3 separate regions of the Homo sapiens genome follow, and all the other regions are linked to region 1. Evidence: fine-mapped expression QTL. A gene starts in region 1. Each other region holds a variant in brackets. All regions are shown on one strand. Distances are from middle to middle.

What was found.
Region 2: its variant is fine-mapped to the expression of ARHGAP26 in whole blood (TOPMed, PIP 0.93).
Region 3: its variant is fine-mapped to the expression of ARHGAP26 in testis (GTEx, PIP 0.91).

What each region holds. Positions count from the first base shown.
Region 1 is chr5:142,766,596-142,772,862 of GRCh38, forward strand. ARHGAP26 (Rho GTPase activating protein 26) reads left to right here and starts at 3,782. Exons shown (of 23, transcript NM_001135608.3): 1 at 3,782-4,320. The coding sequence starts at 4,167. RefSeq lists silencers at 3,586-3,995, 4,006-4,125 and an enhancer at 4,421-5,256.
Region 2 is chr5:143,038,713-143,044,979 of GRCh38, forward strand. ARHGAP26 (Rho GTPase activating protein 26) reads left to right here. Exons shown (of 23, transcript NM_001135608.3): 14 at 3,104-3,178. Among named protein-coding and RNA genes, the nearest start is that of ARHGAP26-IT1, 150 kb to the right of the region's middle. The variant T/A (reference allele first, on the strand shown) is at 2,686.
Region 3 is chr5:143,021,571-143,027,837 of GRCh38, forward strand. All of the region lies in intron 12 of ARHGAP26 (Rho GTPase activating protein 26), which reads left to right. Among named protein-coding and RNA genes, the nearest start is that of ARHGAP26-AS1, 160 kb to the left of the region's middle. RefSeq lists an enhancer at 336-425. The variant C/T (reference allele first, on the strand shown) is at 3,219.

The sequences.
Region 1 (6,267 bases):
TGAATAATACAAAATCTCTACCCTTATGAGCAGATTTTCTGGGAAGAGAAAGACAACTGCACCCTCCATGCGCCAGTTTCTGTACTGCTGCATTCTTCTTTTTTTTTGAGACAGTCTCACTCTGTCACCCAGGCTGGAGTGCAGTGGTGCGATCTCGGCTCACTGCAACCTCTGCCTCCCAAGTTCAAGCGATTCTCCAGTCTCAGCCTCCCAAGTAGCTGGGACTACAGGCATTCACCACCACACCCGGCTAATTTTTTTACTTTTAGTAGAGACGGGGTTTCACCATGTTGGGCAGCCTGGTCTCGAACTCCTGACCTCAAGTAATCTGCCTGCCTAGGCCTCCCAAAGTGCTGGGATTACAGGCTTGGGCCACCACACCCAGCCTGTACTGCTGCATTCTGATTCTCTCTTTCTAGTAATACTGCTGAAAGTGTGGGAGGTTTTTTGTGGAAATTCCATATTAAATTTATGAGAAATTTACACATTATTCACATATTTACATATTTGTCTGTGAATGGGCATATTAAGTTATATGTTTGTGCCACATAGAATTATTAATATTATCTCGGTAAGCTGGTTCAAGTTACAACTCTGGGCCTCAATTTCTTATCTGAAAAAATGGGAACTATCATAGTACCAGTCTCACCCTGTAGGGATTATATGCATGTAAATAATTTTTTTGTTTGTTTTTTGAGACAGAGTCTCTCTCCGTCACCCAGGCTGGAGTGCAGTGGCACGACCTCAGCTCACTGCAAACTCTGCCTCCTGGGCTCAAGCAATTCTTGTGTCTCAGCTTCCTGAGTAGCTGGGATTAAAGGCGTGTGCCACTATGCCAGCTATAAATGCATGTAAATAATTTACCATAGTGCCTGGCATAAACTGAGAGCTTAACAAATGATAGCTGATATATTATTGTTGTTATTATTAATACATATATATTATTTTACACACATTTGCCTACTATTCCTCAATGGGATAAAACAAATAATTGTGGATCACATTTTATTTCATTCATTTAGCATGTATTGAATGTTACCATTTATGCTGGGCCCACTGTGGCAGATTATGTTTTTCAGAAATAGCTACTATAATATCTCCCATTCTTGTCATTCCCCCATCAAGAGGTACAGTCTAATCTCCTTCCTTTGAAGCTGGGTGGGCTTATGAGTTGCTTGTAGCCAATGAAGGTGGTAGAAGTATGTGGCTTCCAAGTGATTCAGGGCAGGCAAGGCCCAAAATTGCAGCTTAGCCCAGGAGGCTTCTTGGCTTTGCCCAGAAAAGAATTCAAGGGCAAGCCAGTGGTAAGAGAAAGCAACTTTCATTGAATCAGTGCTGCTCCTTGTGGAACAGGGCTATCCCATAGGGAGTGTGCTCAGGATGGGCAGTGTACAGGGCTGTTGGCAGCTGTACCTATACCTACCTTTAATTATATGCTAATTAAGAGGTGGGTTATTTAGAACTTTCTGGAAAGGAGGCAGGGAGTTTCCAGAACCATATAAGGTAACTTCCAGGCCATTGCCATGGCCTGTTGCAATGGCATTTGTAAACTGTCATGGCAATGGTGGGAGTGTCTCTATGCTAATGAGCAGTGAGGGCAACTAAAAGTGTCTTTTTTCCTTGCCTGCTGGTTTCTGCTGGCTGCTTCACTGAATCCCGTTTGGAATGAATCCTGGTTTGATCAGTGGGGTTGTGATTGGAAAACAAGTCCTGCAGGCCTCTCACCTCACAAGGCTAGGTCATAAAAGGTGATGCACCTTTCTCCTTGTGAGCTGTATATGTTCACACTGGAGCCTTAAGGCTGCCATACTGGGAGGAAGCCTAAACTGGGCCACAGAGAAAGGCCATATGGAGAAGCCCTGAGTCTACCTGAAAAGTGGGATGCCCAGCTAACCATCCACTCCTCCAGCTCCTGTCACCATCCAACTGCAATCACATGAGAGACCTCAAGCCTTTGGCTTCCCTAAATTTCTAACCCACAGAGATTGTGAGAGAAAATAAAATGATTGCTGTTGTCTTAAACCATTAACTTTTGGTATCATTTATTCTGTATTAATAGATAACCAGAACACCTACCTTTAGGTGCTCAAGATAAAGCATTAAACAGATTTACTTTCATAGGGTTTCCATTCTAGATCTTTCTCATCTTTGGCAAGTGAAGAACAATTGTTTTTGGGTTGTAATTATCTATCAGATAGCTGTCTGGACCTGCTATCAAGTCTAAATTTGTAGATACACCTATCAAAGAGATCACATTCACTTATTTATACATTTACTTATTTATTTTACAATTTTTTGTAGAGATGGGGGGGGTCTCGCTGTGTTGCCCAAGATGGTCTTGAACTCTTGACCCCAAGCAATCCTCTCACCTGGCCTCCAAAAGTTATGGATTACAGGTGTGAGCCACCATGCTCCATTTATGAATTTAATACATTAATTGCTTTCTTAATATAGATGGGACACCTCTGACCCCTCCTGAGTGAAAAATCCATGTTCCCAAGCACCCAGGCCTTCTATCCTATCACAAGGCATGGTTATCGCTTGTTTGCTTCCATCTCACCTAATACCACCAGCAGCTAAATTCATTCTGTTATTCATCTTTGTATTCTTACCATCTAGGCTAGTGCCTGCACATAGCAGACCTATTTAAAAAACAAACCAACCCAAACAAACATGAAGCCCCCACGTAGCTGAAGGAGGGCTGCTGGTTCCTAGACATAGAGATAATTTATTCAAGGACAGTCCCTATCCTCCAGGAGTTAACAATTCAGCACTAGACACCCTGTGGGACCCAGCCTGACAAGTGCAACGAGTGAGATGCCAGAATTGAGTCCTGCGGTCGAACAGAGGGACTACAGGGCAACGCACTGGGCGTGGGAGGTGGAGATGGCTCTGGGAAAGGATCCATTCATTTATTCTACATTTATCAATCACCGTAGCACACACAGCACATAGTAAGTGCTCAATATCTGTTATTAAATGCCAGCCACTGTGCTAGGTGCCAGGATGCAACAGCGGACAAGAAAATTGCAGGGGCACTTGCCCTCGTGGGGCTTACCGTGTAGCGAAGGATGACAGGCAGTAGACTGTCATCTTATTATGTAAAATTGTGCTAGATGCAGAGCAGGAAAATAACAGGCGGCTGAAATTCTAGTAATGATGTGAGCTCCTTCGGCTGAGGGGAACCGTGGGCGGGTTCTGAGCAGGAGTGGCCGTGAGGGGGACGGACCGTAGGGGGCGGGAAGACTGCAGGCAAGAGCTGGTAATTTTAAGATGCAAATAACATTTTTCTGCCTGACTGGAAGAGGAGCGTTTGGTCGCTCGGGATTCTCCCGGAGCAGGGGGCTGTATTTTGAGTGTAAAATCGGTTGCCCCGCAGTGCAGGGCAGGCGGTGGTGAACTGCAGCCCTAGTCCCCAGGTTTTTCATGCTTGGCACATCGAGGCTCTTCGGCCCCCAGGACCAGCAGACTCGCCATGCGTGGCTCGGATTCGGGCTGGAGCAGGCGGGCAAGGTAGCGGGGGCGGGTGCACAGCAACGCTCACCCCTAGGTTTCGGGGTCTGCAACGCTGGGAGGGCAAGAGGAGGCGGAGTTTGCGCTGCGGACCTAGGCGTTGGCGAGGGCCACGCCCCCAGCCGCAGACCCTGCCTCCAGGCCCCTTTGATTGGATCAAGACCGCGGAAGGGCCGGGCGTCCTCGGGCGGCCTGAGGGTCGGGCAGGGGAGGGTGCGCTGATTGGCCCGGCGGGGATTAAGTCATCGCTAGCAGGTTCGAGCGGCCCAGACACCGGCGGGGCGGCCGAGGCTGCTGTGAGAGGGCGCTCGAGGCTGCCGAGAGCTAGCTAGCGAAGGAGGCGGGGAGGCGGCGTCTGCACTCGCTCGCCCGCTCGCTCGCTTCCCGGCGCCGCTGCGGGTCCGCGCTGCGTTTCCTGCTCGCGATCCGCTCCGTTGCCCGCGCCCGGAACAGCAGCACCTCGGCCGGGTCCGAGCTCGGTTCGGGAGTCTTGCGCGCCGGCGGACACCGCGCGCGGAGTGAGCCAGCGCCACACCTGTGGAGCCGGCGGCCGTCGGGGGAGCCGGCCGGGGTCCCGCCGCGTGAGTGCTCTGGGCGGCGGGCGGCCCGGGCCCCGGCGGAGGCGCGCCCCCCGGCTGGGCGCCGCGCGCACCATGGGGCTCCCAGCGCTCGAGTTCAGCGACTGCTGCCTCGATAGTCCGCACTTCCGAGAGACGCTCAAGTCGCACGAAGCAGAGCTGGACAAGACCAACAAATTCATCAAGGAGCTCATCAAGGACGGGAAGTCACTCATAAGCGCGCTCAAGAGTGAGTGTCCCGAGCCCCTCGGGGACGCGGCTCCGGGGCGGGAGGAACTGGGAGGTGGCGCTTAGCCCGGGTTGCCCGCGCGTCTGCCGGGTTTCTGCTCCCGGTACACTGGGGGACGGGTGTCGACGCCTCCGAGGCAGGAAGGATACGTAAAGCGGGCGAACCAGCAACCATCAGATGAAGAGAGAGACCCGTCGCTCCGCCTTTTGCGTTCAGGGATGGTCGGGAGGTGACCCAGCGCGGGTGGTGCTCTGGGGCAGCGCGGGTGGGCGTGGGCGTGCGCGGCACGCAGGTGTCCCAGCAGTGGGGCCAGAGTGCCGAGCGCGCCGCAGCCAGCGGGCAGATCCCATCGTGTCCACAGCTCCAGCTCCCTTAGGGGCAGAGTTGCTCAGCCTTGAGTGCCCAACCGTGAGAATGGAGCGTGCCCTGCCGAGGGGGCGCTGCCTCCCCTTGGGAAAAGGTGGGTTGTGACTGCTTCGCTCCCTGTACGCAGCTCCAGCCTAGTCAGGCCGCCGGGTTCCCTGGGTGGAATGCTTGGTTAGCTTGCGATTCCTTGGAGTATTGGCAGCCAGTAATCTCTAAATCTGGAATCAGTACGTGCGCAGGTTCTGATTCTTGTGTTTAGCAGAAGGTGATAGGGGTGGGAGTAGAGAATCAGAGTGTTCCTTTACTCTAAACTGTGGGCGAGGGTTTAAAAATAGAATGTACATATCCCAACTCTCTCCCTCTCCTGCTCCCAAGCTCTCCTTTTTACCTCTTCCGTTATCCTTGTAAAGGTCTGAGAAGGAATATCCATAATTCTCAGAAAGAAGTTCAAACGTATTTCAAAGATTCTTGGACCTTTTGTAAAACCATTTTTGCGTTTTTTCCTTTTGGTACAAGGGGAGAGATGCAATTTTGCATTCTGCTTCACTTTTGCAGAGCCAGAGAGTTTCTTTTTCTGGCCAAATAAGCGTGCTCTAGGGATGAGTGCTTTGGATTGTGAGAACGTTTTTGGTGCCTTTTCAGTCTCCCCATTTAAAAATAGCTCAGTCCATCTTTTAGTTTTAAGAATCAGGAACCACATGAAGGCAGATAGTGGAATTGTCTCTGACTCTGTTACTGTATCTGTTTCTGTGATGGATTTCTTAGTAGGTGATACCTTTCAGCTAAGAAATCTTGCCTTAGCAGAGTAGAGTCGTAGCTGTGGGAATTGTTCCCAGGCCTCTTTAAAGGGCACTTACAAAAGTCAGGTGCCTGAGATGTCATTTTGTCAGCTTGTTGCTTCTAAAAATGAAGAGAGAGACAATGGAATGCCAGGGCAGCCCAAAGTGCCAATCTTTTGGGATGAAATGAACACAGGACTGTGATGTGATGAGGCTTCTTAGAGGCAGATTCTTAGGCTGTGCCTTACCTGAAACATATGAACAGACCCTTCCTTTGTCAATAATCAAGGCCATTCTTGGTTTAGGGGATGGGGGTCCCTGGTTTGGAGTAAGTTAGGGGCCCACTTACAGGTTGGGCCCAGGAATTTTGATTGAACCTCAGGCTGGCTTTAGTGAGTTCTCTGCTTCACTCAGCAAACTTTTGGTGTGATTGTGGTGTACTGGGTACTGCACTGGGCACTAAGGGTGTAGGAGTGAATATTTTGCTGCTCCTGTGCTTACAGAGGTGTACTTCATTCCAGGCACTGCTTCACATATAATTATCTCATGTGCTTAGATTCATTCTGCAAATGAGAAAACAGAGACTGGGGGAAGCATTACCTCTGAGTCACACAGCTCTAGCAGCAGGACCAGAGCTTTTGAATCCACCTGGTTTGAGCCAGAGATGGAGTCCCTGCCAGTGCAGAGCTCTTGACTTCTGCCCCATCTCACTTGCCCGGAATGGAACCTCTTGCACCAAGCCCTAGAATTTGGACTTGTGTTTTCTATTTTGGCATTGAATCTGAGGAGGGTGCGTTTGGGT
Region 2 (6,267 bases), 270 kb after region 1:
TTGAGACAGAGTCTCTTTCTGTCCCCAGGCTGGAGTGCAGTAATGCAGTCTCGGTTCACTGCAAACTCCAACTCCCTGGTTCAAGGGATTCTTCTGCCTCAGCCTCCTGAGTAGCTGGGATTACGGGCACACACCACCACGTCCAGCTAATTTTTGTATTTTTAATAGAGATGGGGTTTCACCATGTTGGCCAGGATGGTCTCGATCTCCTGATCTTGTGATCCACCCACCTCGGTCTCCCAAAGTGCTGGGATTACAGACATATGGCATTTTAAAAATTATTTATAATACGTGAAAAATGCAAGTTACAAAGCAGCTGCTCAGTATGAGCCCGTTCTGGGAGCAGTGGGGAGAGGAGTGGTCATATTGCACAGGTTTCATTGTGTTCTCAGTGGCTGTCTGCTGATTTTTACTGTTTCCCTTTGACTCATCTATTTACCTTAACTGTAGTTTCTAAGTTTTTTTGAAGTGTTCATTACTAAGGTAATTTTTCTTTTTTCTTTTTCTTTGGAGGGGACAGAGTCTTGCTCTGTTGCTTAGGCTGGAGTGCAGTGGCTCAATCTCTACTCACTGCAACCTTGGCCTCACAGGTTCAAGCGATTCTCCTACCTCAGCCTCCTGAGTAACTGGCATTACAGGCGCCTGCCACCATGCCCAGCTAATTTTTGTACTTTTAGTAGAGATGGTTTTACCACATTGGCCAGGCTGGTCTTCAACTCCTGACCTCAAGTGATCTGCCCACCTTGGCCTCCCCAAAGTGCTGGGATTACAGGCATGAGCCACTGTGCACGGTCTAACTTTCAACAGGAGTTTTAATTTTTTTTTTTAAATTTAAAAGAAAAGACCGAGAATAAAATGTACAGAGTTTAAAGGTAGAGGCACAAAAATGGAGCCAAAAGCGAGTCTAAAAAAAAAAAATCTCTTTCCCCAGTAAAGTTCATATACTTGCTTGAGCTGGGCCACCTATTCGTCTCTCAGTCTTCAGCAGCCAAAATCAAGAGAGAAACCTAATCATTTAAAACTGTTCACAGAGTCTGTAGTAAATGCAAACTGGTAGCTCAGGAGGACAACTTTTTCTGATGTAAAACTACAAAATAAATACAATAAGTAGGAGAAGAAGAGGTGTACAAGTTCCTCTTCCCCCTCTAAAATGAAAATGGAAATGATGTATTTTAACTTCTACGAAAGTCTTCATTGAGCACAAAGAAGAAATAAGGACAGTATGAGTTAGGTGCCATTTTAGCGTAAATAGTTGAAAAAAGTGGGTATCTCCCGATTGCAGTGTGTGTATGTGCATACGTATTTATGGTGATCAGAGATGAACAGACTTCCCATACTCTCTGGGATTTGACAATTGTCCAGTGGGAGGTGGGATTGTGTAAAGTCCCGGGAAAGCACAAGGATAGAAGAAGTAGAGACACTTAAGACTTTTCAAGCCCACAAGCTGACATGTTACTGAATCAAGTTTCTGCCACTGAGTAACTTGGGACCCATCACTTAGTTTTTGAAGTTTTTGACCAGGGACTCCTAGTCCGTGAATCATGCAGAATGATGTACATGATTTTACAGGTCCTTTTTAGCTGTAAAATTCTATCATTCCAGACCACTTCTTTTTATTCATTAGTTCCATGTCTACATAGGTCTTGTTGAAAGTACTGCAGAATTGGTCCTTTCCTGAGTTTCTTTTGGAAGATTGTGTTTTGGCCCCCAAGTATTTTATACTGGCCTTGATGGAGTATAATCTCGTGTTTTGTTTATTATCATGTACCATATACTGATCCAGGGACTGAGGATGTAATGGTGAACAGGACACAATTACTGTTTACATTCTATTGAGAATGTAACAGAAAAAACAAGTAAATAATCAAATAACAAACATAATTTCAGATATTGTTAACTGCTATAAAGAAAGAAAACAGGGTAAGGGAATGACCAGTAATGTTGATTGTGGATTGCATTAGATTGAAGCGGTTGCATTTAAGCTGAGATCTGAATGATGAAAAGCTCTGGGAGAAGAGCAGTCCAGGTAGAGGAAACAGCTGGAGCAAAGGCTATGAGGTGGGGCCATGAGCTTGGCATGTTGAGGTGACAGGAAGGCCAGTGTGTGGAGCAGAATGCATGTGGTCAATGATGCAATCAGAGGTAGTCAGTGCTCGATAGTATAGGCCTTATAGGCCATTGTAAGTAGTTTTGATTATGGTCTAAGTGCAATGGGAAGCTATTGGAGGGTTTTAAGAGAAGAGGTGATATGAACTAATTTGCACTTTAGACAGTTCACTTTGGCTACTGGTTGAAGAATGGACATCAGAGGAATAAAATAGGAAGCTGGAGCTCTATTACTTGAGAGGGGTCAGATATGATGGGCCTGGAACTAATAGGAGAAAAATCATTTCAAGTCACCTGGTCTAAATTGCCTTCTTTTGTAAATGGTACAGTGGTGATCTAATCCATGTATTTAAATGAACAGAAACACTGCAGTGGATTAGTTTTTGATTTTTTGTTTAGATGTTTAATTTAAAAGTAAACCCTTACTAGTCTAATTGTACAGTTCCTTGGGTTGAAATAAAGGTGGTCTTTTTTGATAAAGAATATTTGTATTATAAATGAATGGATCTTCTAATTTCTCAGTCTTGGCTAACATTCCTTAAAATTAAAAACATTCTTACACCTCCGTATTTTCATTTT[T/A]TGTGTAAAAATAGATTATAAAGTGTCTTTTTCTGTTGTATGAATTTTTAATGTCATTTTTGGCATTTTAATTTTAAAAATTGGTTAAATATGACATATTTAAAAGTGTACATTTTGCATCTTTTAGAACTCTTCAGATGCTGCCTTTGGCAAGAGAAAGGAAAGCTTCTTTCGCCGCTGATGACTGAACTAACATGAGGGCTGAAGTGTGCAGCACATCCGTGAAATCCTAGACAGCTGTACCAAATCCCACTCGTTTGCTAAGAGCTGAGCTGAGTGACAGGGGACTTTAATTAGAGCAGCTTTTAGGAGGACTGAGAAAATGAAAAAAAAAAAAAAAAAAAGTGCATTTGGCTGGATTGGCCTGACTTGTGTTCTGACGTGCCTCTAATTAAATCATCACTGTTTCTTTCCTCAGGGATCAACGAGCAAGGGCTGTATCGAATTGTGGGTGTCAACTCCAGAGTGCAGAAGTTGCTGAGTGTCCTGATGGGTGAGTGCCGCAGTGGCTCTGCTAGGCAGGTCCCTGGATGGGGGGCCCACTCTGAAAAGTCACCAGGTCTGTGAGTAGATACAGCCTGTGGCAAAGGAATCGGGGTGTCCGTGAGCTGTCACCTAGAAGTCATCTGCCCCATCGGTCAGTTGTCATGGCTTCAGACACTGCTGGGAAAGGTTCTGAGTAGGACTGGACAAAATAAAAAATGCCAGGGCCCAGACACCACACCCTCTCTGTCTGTAGGCTCAGTGCTCTGGTCCAAGTGGCACTCAGTCACTCATGTGACCACCACACCCTACTCTGTCTTTAATAGCTTATGACTCCCTCCGTTCTCTTTTGGGACAGGTATTTAGTGGGACACACCCAATGCCCAAGGAAAGGCATCATTCTGGGCTCCAGAGGACCTCAGAGTTCATGTTCCTGATACTGAGCAGGTGTCATGTAACTCTCAGATAAAATATATATAACCAGAGAAATCTTCTGATCCTCTTTGCTTCTAGATTTCAACCGAATACCTGTCACTTGAGCAGCAGAACCTCCTTTGCCACTGGCTGATATAAATACAAAGCAGTGTCTCCAAATGTGCAGTATTTGAATCAAAAGCCCATGAGTCCATGAGCCAAATTTGCTTAGGCTGCAGATTTCCTGTATTTTTAGATATGAGTGCAGCCAGCCTCCATGAATCACATGGACCTAAATGGCAAACAGATCAGGTTTCACAGAGGCTGTTATTCCTCCCCATGGAAGCCCTGGCTTGTAGAGAGGGACTATCACTTGGGGTACGCAGCTCAGTGTTTTGGACAGGGACAGTTCTTGTGTTAGTATTTGTAATTTCTTTTGCCATCCCACTTTCTGAAAATAGCTTTCTTGTGTAAAGAAATCTCTTCTCTCATGTTGGCCAGAATGACTGTCTTCACCTCTTTTTGAGAGAGTCATTCACTTCTTGTAGCCAAAACCCTATTGTATTGCTAGTTAGAGTGAGATCTGTTGTTTAAAACTATGATTATTTGCGAGGTACTCTAGCAACGAGTATCTGGGTTTTTTTTGGTTAAGATTTGAAATATGGTTAGTTTTTGTAAAAATTAAACTTTTCATTTTGAGATAATTGTAGATTTACATTCGGTTGTAAGAAATAATATAGAGATCCTGTGTACCACTTACTCAGTCTCCTCTAAAGGTAACATCTTGCAAAACACAATTTTAATATCACAACCAAAATATTGGCATTAATTTAGTCAAGATGCAGAACACTTCCATCACTAAAAGGATTCCTTGTGATGTTGTACAAGCACATACCTCACTTCCCACCTTGCACCCTGTGCCTAACCCCTGGCGATCAGCAATCTGTTCTCTATTTCTATAATTTTGTCATTTCAAGATTATTATTTAAATGGAATTATACAATACAGAACCTTTTGGGATTGGCATTGTTTTTCAATCAGTGTAATTTTCTCAAGATTTATTTTTGCTGTTCCATGTATTAATAGTTCTTTTTTATTGCTGAGTAATATTCCATTGTATGGATGTACTGCACTTTGTCGAACCATTCATTTATTGAAGGGCACCTGAGTTGTTTCCAGTTTGGGGCAATTATGATAAAGCTTCTATAAATTTTCATATATAGTTTCTGTGTGAGCATATATTTGTTCCTCTGGGATAAATGTCCGAGTGTGCAAATTGCTGGGTTGTATGGCGATAGGGTCAATTTTTGAGAATTTCTAATATAAGGAAGAATTAAGAGTCTAATAGGTGTCAATCCTTAGTTTTTCATTTCTGACCAGAGCTGCAAACATTTGTGGGGTGTCTGCTGCTTAGAACAGATGTCAGGTGCTAGAGATTAAATTTTAGAAAGAGCTGTTCCTTTTCTGTAAGGAGTCCTGATAGGGTGAAATATGTGTGTATATGAAAGCTGTAATGTAAAGTATGATATTCATGCTTAATCTGTGCTGGGTCTAGAAGATTGAGTAGTGTAGTGAAGGAGAGAGTAGAAGAATAATTCCAATTCATGAAGTATTCTGAACAAAGGGTCTATGGTGGCTACAGCAAAGGGTATTGATTCTATGATTATTATTTTAATATTTCTGAAAGACTTAACTTGAGGCTGGGACAGGAGAGTTTTAAAGCTGAATAGCTAAGGTGGTCTTTTTTGTTGAGGAACTTGAATACTGAGCCAAGGTGTTTGGGGTTTTTTCTATAGGAAGTAAGAAACTATTAAAAGTTCTCAATAGTGGGATTATATCCATTATAATGCTTTTGCACACAAAAGTGTCAAGAAGACAATTCAGAATAGTTTACAAGGAAAAAAAAAGCATCTATTTGCTCATATAACTGGTAAATCCAAGACAGAAGCATGGCAGAGTCAGGGATGCCAATGATGTCTTTACTTTTGCTAGATCCTTTGCCCCTTCCTTCTTCTGGCTTCTCATGTTCTCTGACCTCTTCTGGGCTTGGTGTGGCTTTGTTCTCTGTGGGAGTGTCCCAGACAGGTTCAGCCTCTGCAGTCCTTGGAGCCTGTGGTCACTGAGAAGAAAGTGCCTTTCTTGACCATGTTGGCAGAAGGCTCCAGCGAGGACTTTGCTTGGTCAGTATGGGGCCATTCACATGATTCGTTTCTCAATCTCAGACCAGTCACATGGCCCATGGCAGATGGCCTGGATCCTGTGCGTATGTTGGGGGATGTGGGGGATGGGGTGGACAGTTGGGGTGGGGACGGGGTTAGTCCCTGAAACCCAGTGGACTGAGCAGGATTATTGATAGGAAGATGGAGAAGTGCTTTCCTGAAATAATGGCTGCTGTTAGCTTTTTTAAAAAAGTATATCTAATACAGATGTAACAATATCAGATTCTAGCATTAGGAGCATATTGTTGGCTCCAATTTGGAGCATGTGTTTGATTATGGAAAGACATGGAGGAGGAAGTTGGTTGTAATAGATCAGGCAAGGCAAACCCTATCAAAGACTGAACTAAATAGGTGCTCTGAAGTCAGGAAAAAAGGACACACTCATAGTGAGTATACAGAGAGAATCAACAGGACTTTTAACCAACTTGATATGGGGGAACAGAAGGGGCAGAGAGATTTCAAAGAT
Region 3 (6,267 bases), 250 kb after region 1:
GGCTGGTGTAGAATAGCATCCTGGGTGTAGAACTTTGGACAGGTGGTGCGCCTCTCTAAGCTTCCATTTCCTCTTCTGTAAAATGGGGATAATAATACCCCTGCTTCATAAACTCATTGTAAGAATGAAAGTTCAGCACATTAGTATCTGCACATTAGTTGGTAAGTGCCTAATTACTCTTGGTTATTACTCTTATCATCTGGCCAGGCCAGTTACTCCCACAACAAAAGGAAAAACCCACTGGAAAGGAAAAGCCAGCTGGATTGGTAACACTGCTCTTGAAGGGAGGAAGACAACCTGCTACTGTTTCTCAGTCTTGGTGCTTTATGAGTGTTCATTCATTTAATCCTCGTTACTGTATTTCTCAAAGTGGGGTGTGCACACCACTGGTGGTACACTAGGTCATTTGAGAGAGTATATTTTAAATTACCATCTAGACTTCTGTATTTATTTTGATGTGTATTGTGGGGGAACATAAGTTCTCTGAAATCCCCTGATTTTATTTTGTTTTATTTCATTTATTTTTTTGAGACCCCTGTCACCCAGGCTGGAGTGCAGTGGTGTGATCACGGCTCACTGCAACCTCCGCCTCCTGGGCTCAGGTGATTCTCCTGCCTCAACCTCCCTAGTAGCTGGGATTACAGGTGCCTGCTACCACACCTGGCTAATTTTTTTTATTTTTAGTAGAGATGGGGTTTCACCATGTTGGCCAGGCTGGTCTCGGACTCCTGACCTCAGGTGATCCGCCTGCCTCGGCCTCCCAAAGTGTTGGGATTACAGGCATGAGCCACTGCGCCTGGCCAATCCCCTGATTTTACAAATGTTATTGCTTAGCACAGGGGTCCACTTTTTTTAGTAAAGGGCCAGATAGTAAATATTTTTATTTTTATAGGAGTATTCAACTCCGCTATGGTAGTGTGAAAGCAGTCACAGACAATATGGAAATGAGCAGGTGTGGGTGTTTTCCAGTAAAACTTTGTTTTACAAAACAGGCAATGGTGAATTTGGCCCAGGGACTGTAGTTTATTAACCCTTGGCTTAACACAAGGCTAAGTTTTTAAAATTAGTCTAAATGGGATGGCATGAGGTTTTGAGAGGGAGCATGAAAGTGTCACACGATGGGCTGCCATTTGTACAAATGCTGTTCACAGCAACTGAGTTTCCAAAGGAGCTCACAGGCTTAAAGAGGTCAAGGGAGCACAGTTGAGAAGTAGTGAAGCTCATACTCAAACCCTAGCCTGCCTCATTGCCAGGGTCATTTTTTTCCTGCAACACTTCATATGCTTGAAATCTTTGATCCATTCTGCCATCCTGTTCATATGTGGTCCACCCATGGGGGCTGGAAGGAATTTCATCATCAGACTCCAACATCTAACCCCTCTAGTTCTTTGTGGCTGAGGGGCCATCCCATATTCCTTCTTAGTGCACCACCTCATTAGAGCCCTCAGTGGTTCCTCAAACACCTGTGCACAGTGCTGGGTGCACAAGGGTCACGCATTTCACTGACTGGCTTCCCCAGGGTCAGACCCTTAGTGTGGCCCACCACTCTCCCACAGGGATTTGGCAACACAACATAATGCTTTATATGTTGTTTCTGTACATCCACTCATCCTTCTTTAGGCCGTCATTCAGAGCAAACTCCCTGATGGCGTTTTATTCAGGTTTGCCTTGTTTTATGAGGACAAGATTGAGGACCAGGAGAGGAGATGGGGAGGGACATCATTACCATTGCTCTGTTTCCTATTGTTGTGCCTCTGACTGTACATTTCCTTCATCTCTGTTCCTCAGCCTCCCTTGATCTGTAAAACAGAAAAGGAGATTTAGGCTTGAAAACTGTAGGGAAAGCCTTGATGGGATCGCCTGGGCCACTATTTTTAAAAGACATCTAAAGCCTTCAGCCATTACCAAAAATCCACCGTCTCATGAAAGCAGCAGAGGGCAGAAAAGAGGATTTGTTTTTCTTTTGCTTCTAGTCACCTTTGGCCTTTTGCTGTTAGAACACCCACAGTTGAGAGGCAGGAGGAGGCAGCCACCGGTAACCAGGATCCTTTTGGGATCAGAACCATCCAGAGGCTGCCAGGCCTCTGCTGGTCGGTGGCTTATAAATAGAACATTTCCCCTTTTAAACCTGAGAAGGGTGGAAGGCATTAATGGGCACAGTGGCCTGGCCGCCTATGCACTGGCCCACGAGGCAGTCAGCTGAGTGCAGCATCCCCTCCAGCTTTCTCTCCAGGCCTGCCAGGTCTGAGCTGATAGAGGACAGACACTCTGCCTCCCTCCCTTGCCTGCGTTCCTTCCTGCCCTCCTCCCCACACCCTTTTTCTTTCCCCTTTCTCCTCTCTCCTGTGCATGCAGTTTCCGTGGCCACCACTTTCATCTTCTGAGCCGCAGTCAGGCGAGGTGGTATAATTCTAGCTCTCCCTAGGTGCTGACTTTCTACACCTCACTTTTCATTATGAGTTGCCTGTGCAACACAGTTGCTGTGGTGCATTGAGCTTGAATTACATTTAGTTGAGCTGTAATACCCCAGCTCTAGAATAGCCCTGGCTCGGAGGGCAGGGGGCTGGAGAGAGAAGAAGGGGCAGGAACAGCTTGTTTTTGCAGATATTTTATTATTTGAGTTCCCAGCTATTTTGTTTGATGAGACCCTGGCCCCCAAAGCTATGACTGGTGGTGGTACTCCTTGGACTTGCATGGATAATCAGAAGCCTTTCTGCTTGTCCTAAAAGACACTTGACAAATCTACCCTCTCTCTCAGCTAGCTTTAGACTGGCAGATGCAGCCAGTGTATGCCTCTGCCATGGCCTAATATTCCCCTTTCCCTCAGTGATGTGGGCTCTGTACTGACAGCAGGCTGCAGCCTGAGCAGGTGTGAGCCACCCGTTGCCATCCCAGTTTGGGCTTCAGCCAAGAGACAGTGAGCAGGTCCCTGGCTACATCTTTAACCCCTAAAGCCCAGTGCAAGGGGTTATTGAGACAGAGACTAAAATATTTCCCCCACTGCCACCGAGTACAGGCTTCCAGTTATTGTGGTTAATGTTTATTGAGTACATACTGGGGAGTGGGCAACATGTTCACTGCTTGATATACGTTATGTCATTTGATCCTCCTAAGAACCCTATGAGCTAGATACTATTATTGACCCCATTTACAGATGTGAAAACTGAGACTTCATTCTGAGGGCAAACTTGGTCACTCCCTGCACTGATCAGAGTTGT[C/T]AGAGCCTGCAGCTCACAATCGGCATGTAAGATTGAGCAGAGGGTAGAGTAGTGCTTAGAAGTGTTAGCTCTGGAGTATTCCACACGTGGTTTGAAATCCCAGCCTCAAGAATTACTGAGTGTGTGATTTTGAGAAATTAATTTCTCCAAGCCTCAGTTTCTTTGTCTGAAGGTGGGAATAGTTTTAATAATTAAATCTTTGGTTTTTTTGGAAGAATAAATGAGATTAGGATGGACATCCTTTGCTCAATGGTGCCTGGTATTATCGGCAATGATTAAATGTTGCGCTTTATTCTTATTACCAATAATGTCATCATTATCCAAAGCCAGAGCCCGTTTATATAAAAACGTGGCACTGTACAGTCTCTTTAAAGTTCCTCCGGGCATTGCCTTATTTGATTTTCACAACACCTGCATCTTATATGTGAGGGGAATGGGTCAGAGAGGTGAAGTATGCCCAGCTTACACAAGCAGTTTGTGGAGACACCAGGGCTCAAATCTTAGGCCTTTGATTCTGAATGCCCTCTCTTTCCCTGCCCTTCGCTGCCTCAGAGTTTGTTGTGACCAACAAATTGTTCTTAAAGCATTTCGAGGTAAGAAGACAGATAGGTAAAGGCAGGAAAGTGACCTTGATGGGCAGAGGCAGTTGGTTCTCTGTTTGAAACACTTCCACCCTCAGAAAGCTGATGATGATCTCTTTCGGTTGAGAAATCAGTGCAAAACCACCGGGCCTTAAGGCAGAAGGGAATTGAGGCCACTGTGTAATTCATTCTCAGAATGTCCAGATCCCCATGTAGGAGACAAATGGTCCTGATTAAGCTGGTCAGTGTTACTGCAGTGTGCATTAAGCCTTGCTCTTTTGCTGCTATTCTGATTTGGAATTTTAAGGTGGACTAGGAGATTGCAGAAGTAGAAACCCACAAAGAAACACTCCTTCCATCCCAGGCAGATGTATAGTCCTCAGCCTGTGCTGTGCAAGAACCTACGTGCTGTCACCCTGGATGCCTGTCTTTTGCCAAGAATTGGAACACTCTTTAGAACCTCCCCTGACTGTGGCTGAGAGCTGGTAGGTTTATTCCCATCCAGGCAGATTTTTGTTTCTGTTCCTGCTACCTATTTTACTTTACTCTATGTCTCTTTCAGCTTATTTTTCTGTGTGTTTGTTTTCAAGAAACAATGAAAAAAAAATAGATGCCTTTGTATCTGGTAGGCTAGGGAAGAAAAGTCTGACTAGCAGTATTCTTGCTTTGAGGTCAGGGTATGAATGAGATCTCTGTCAAACCTGTTTGTCTCATGCTTCCCACTGCAGGGGCCTGAACTCTAGAAGGTACCAATATATGCAGCCACCTGTCACTATTCAAGGCTCCTGGAATGTGGAGACTTTTGGCCTGTCGGCTCCTTGTGTTTTCAGCTGGTGAAAACATGGATTGTATTTATTCTTTCAGGACATATTTATTGAGATTAGTCATGAACAGGGCAGATTGTCTCTGCTCTCATGGAGCATATACAATGAAAAGAAATTGACAACAAAGAGTAAGCAAGTAGATAAAGGTATAATTTCTGGTAGAGATGAGTATTCTGCAAAAATAAGGGCTGGTGGATAGAGGATAAGGGAGAAGGGAGTGATTTTAGATACCTGGAGCAGGAAAGGTCTCTCTAAAGAGGTGACATTTGAGAAGAAATCTGAACAAAGGGAGGGAGGGAAGCGTGTCAGGAGTGGGTAGATGAGTGTTATTGATGGAGTGACCAACATGTGCAGAGGCCCTGAGGTGACGTGAGCTACTTGTGTTCTAGGAATATCAGGAAGAACAGTGGTGCCCGGATGGGAGGAGGCCCTGGGGGTGAGTGGTCAGGTAGGCTGGGGCTAGACCATGTGGGGCCAGGAGATAAGACTGCATTCTTAGTGTGAAGAGAAGTCACTGGAGAGTTGTGATCAGGTGCATGACATGAGCTGATGTATGTTTTTAAAAGATGACTCTGGCTGCTGGTGGGGAATAAACCGTAGTGGGGTGGGTGGGGGTGGGGGGTGGGGGCAAAATTGAAGCAGCTGGGAGACTGCTGCAGGCAGTCCAGGCAAAGGATGATGGCAGCTTGGATCAAGGTATTAGCAATGGATATGGTGAAGAGTAGTTAGATTCTGGATACGGTTTTAAGTTATTAGTGACAGGATTGGTTAATGGATTGGATGTGGTGTGTGAATTGGATATAGGGTGTGAGAGAAAGCAAAGATCAAGGATGATGTTACTGGAACAGAATATCTTACAGGTAGAATATGGTCCTCTCCCATCTCATTCTTTCAGCCAGGTTGAACATAGTGCATGTTTGGGGACACATTAGGACTTGAGCTCCCCAATTTATTATTTCTGTCACCTTCATGATTTTTTGTGTTTTTTTTTTTTTTGAGATGGAGTCTTACCCTGTCACCCAGGCTAGAATGCAGTGGTACAATCTTGGCTCACTGCTACCTTTACCTTCCTGGTTCAAGTGATTATCGTGCCTCAGCCTCCCAAGTAGCTGGTATTACAGGCACCTGCCACCATGCCTAGCTAATTTTTTTTTCTTTTTTTTTTTTTTTAGTAGAGACAGGATTTCATCATGTTGGCCAGGTTGGTCTCGAATTCCTGACCTCAAGTGATCCACCTGCCTCGGCCTCCCAAAGTGCTGGGATTCTGGGTATGAGCCACTGCACCTGGCTGACTTTTTAAATATATACATATACTACTTTTATTATTAATTTGCTTACTGGTTTTAAACCAATTCATCCATTTTTTACCTCAGTTTATTTAAAAAAGAAATATATTTTGCTATGTGTGATAAATCAGTAGATTTCTAATATTCATTAAAATAAAAGTATAACTGAGAAATGTTTGTGAACCTCTTGGAATCATCCCATATGCCAAAGTGGAACAATCCAGCATTCCATATTAAGATGCATAGCACTGGCAAATAGTTGTTGTCCAGCAGGGAATGTGGTATAGATACTGGCAATTGACTAAATTAAGTCATTTTTGTTTGTTTTTGGTGGTAATAATCTTAATTGCTTAGTATA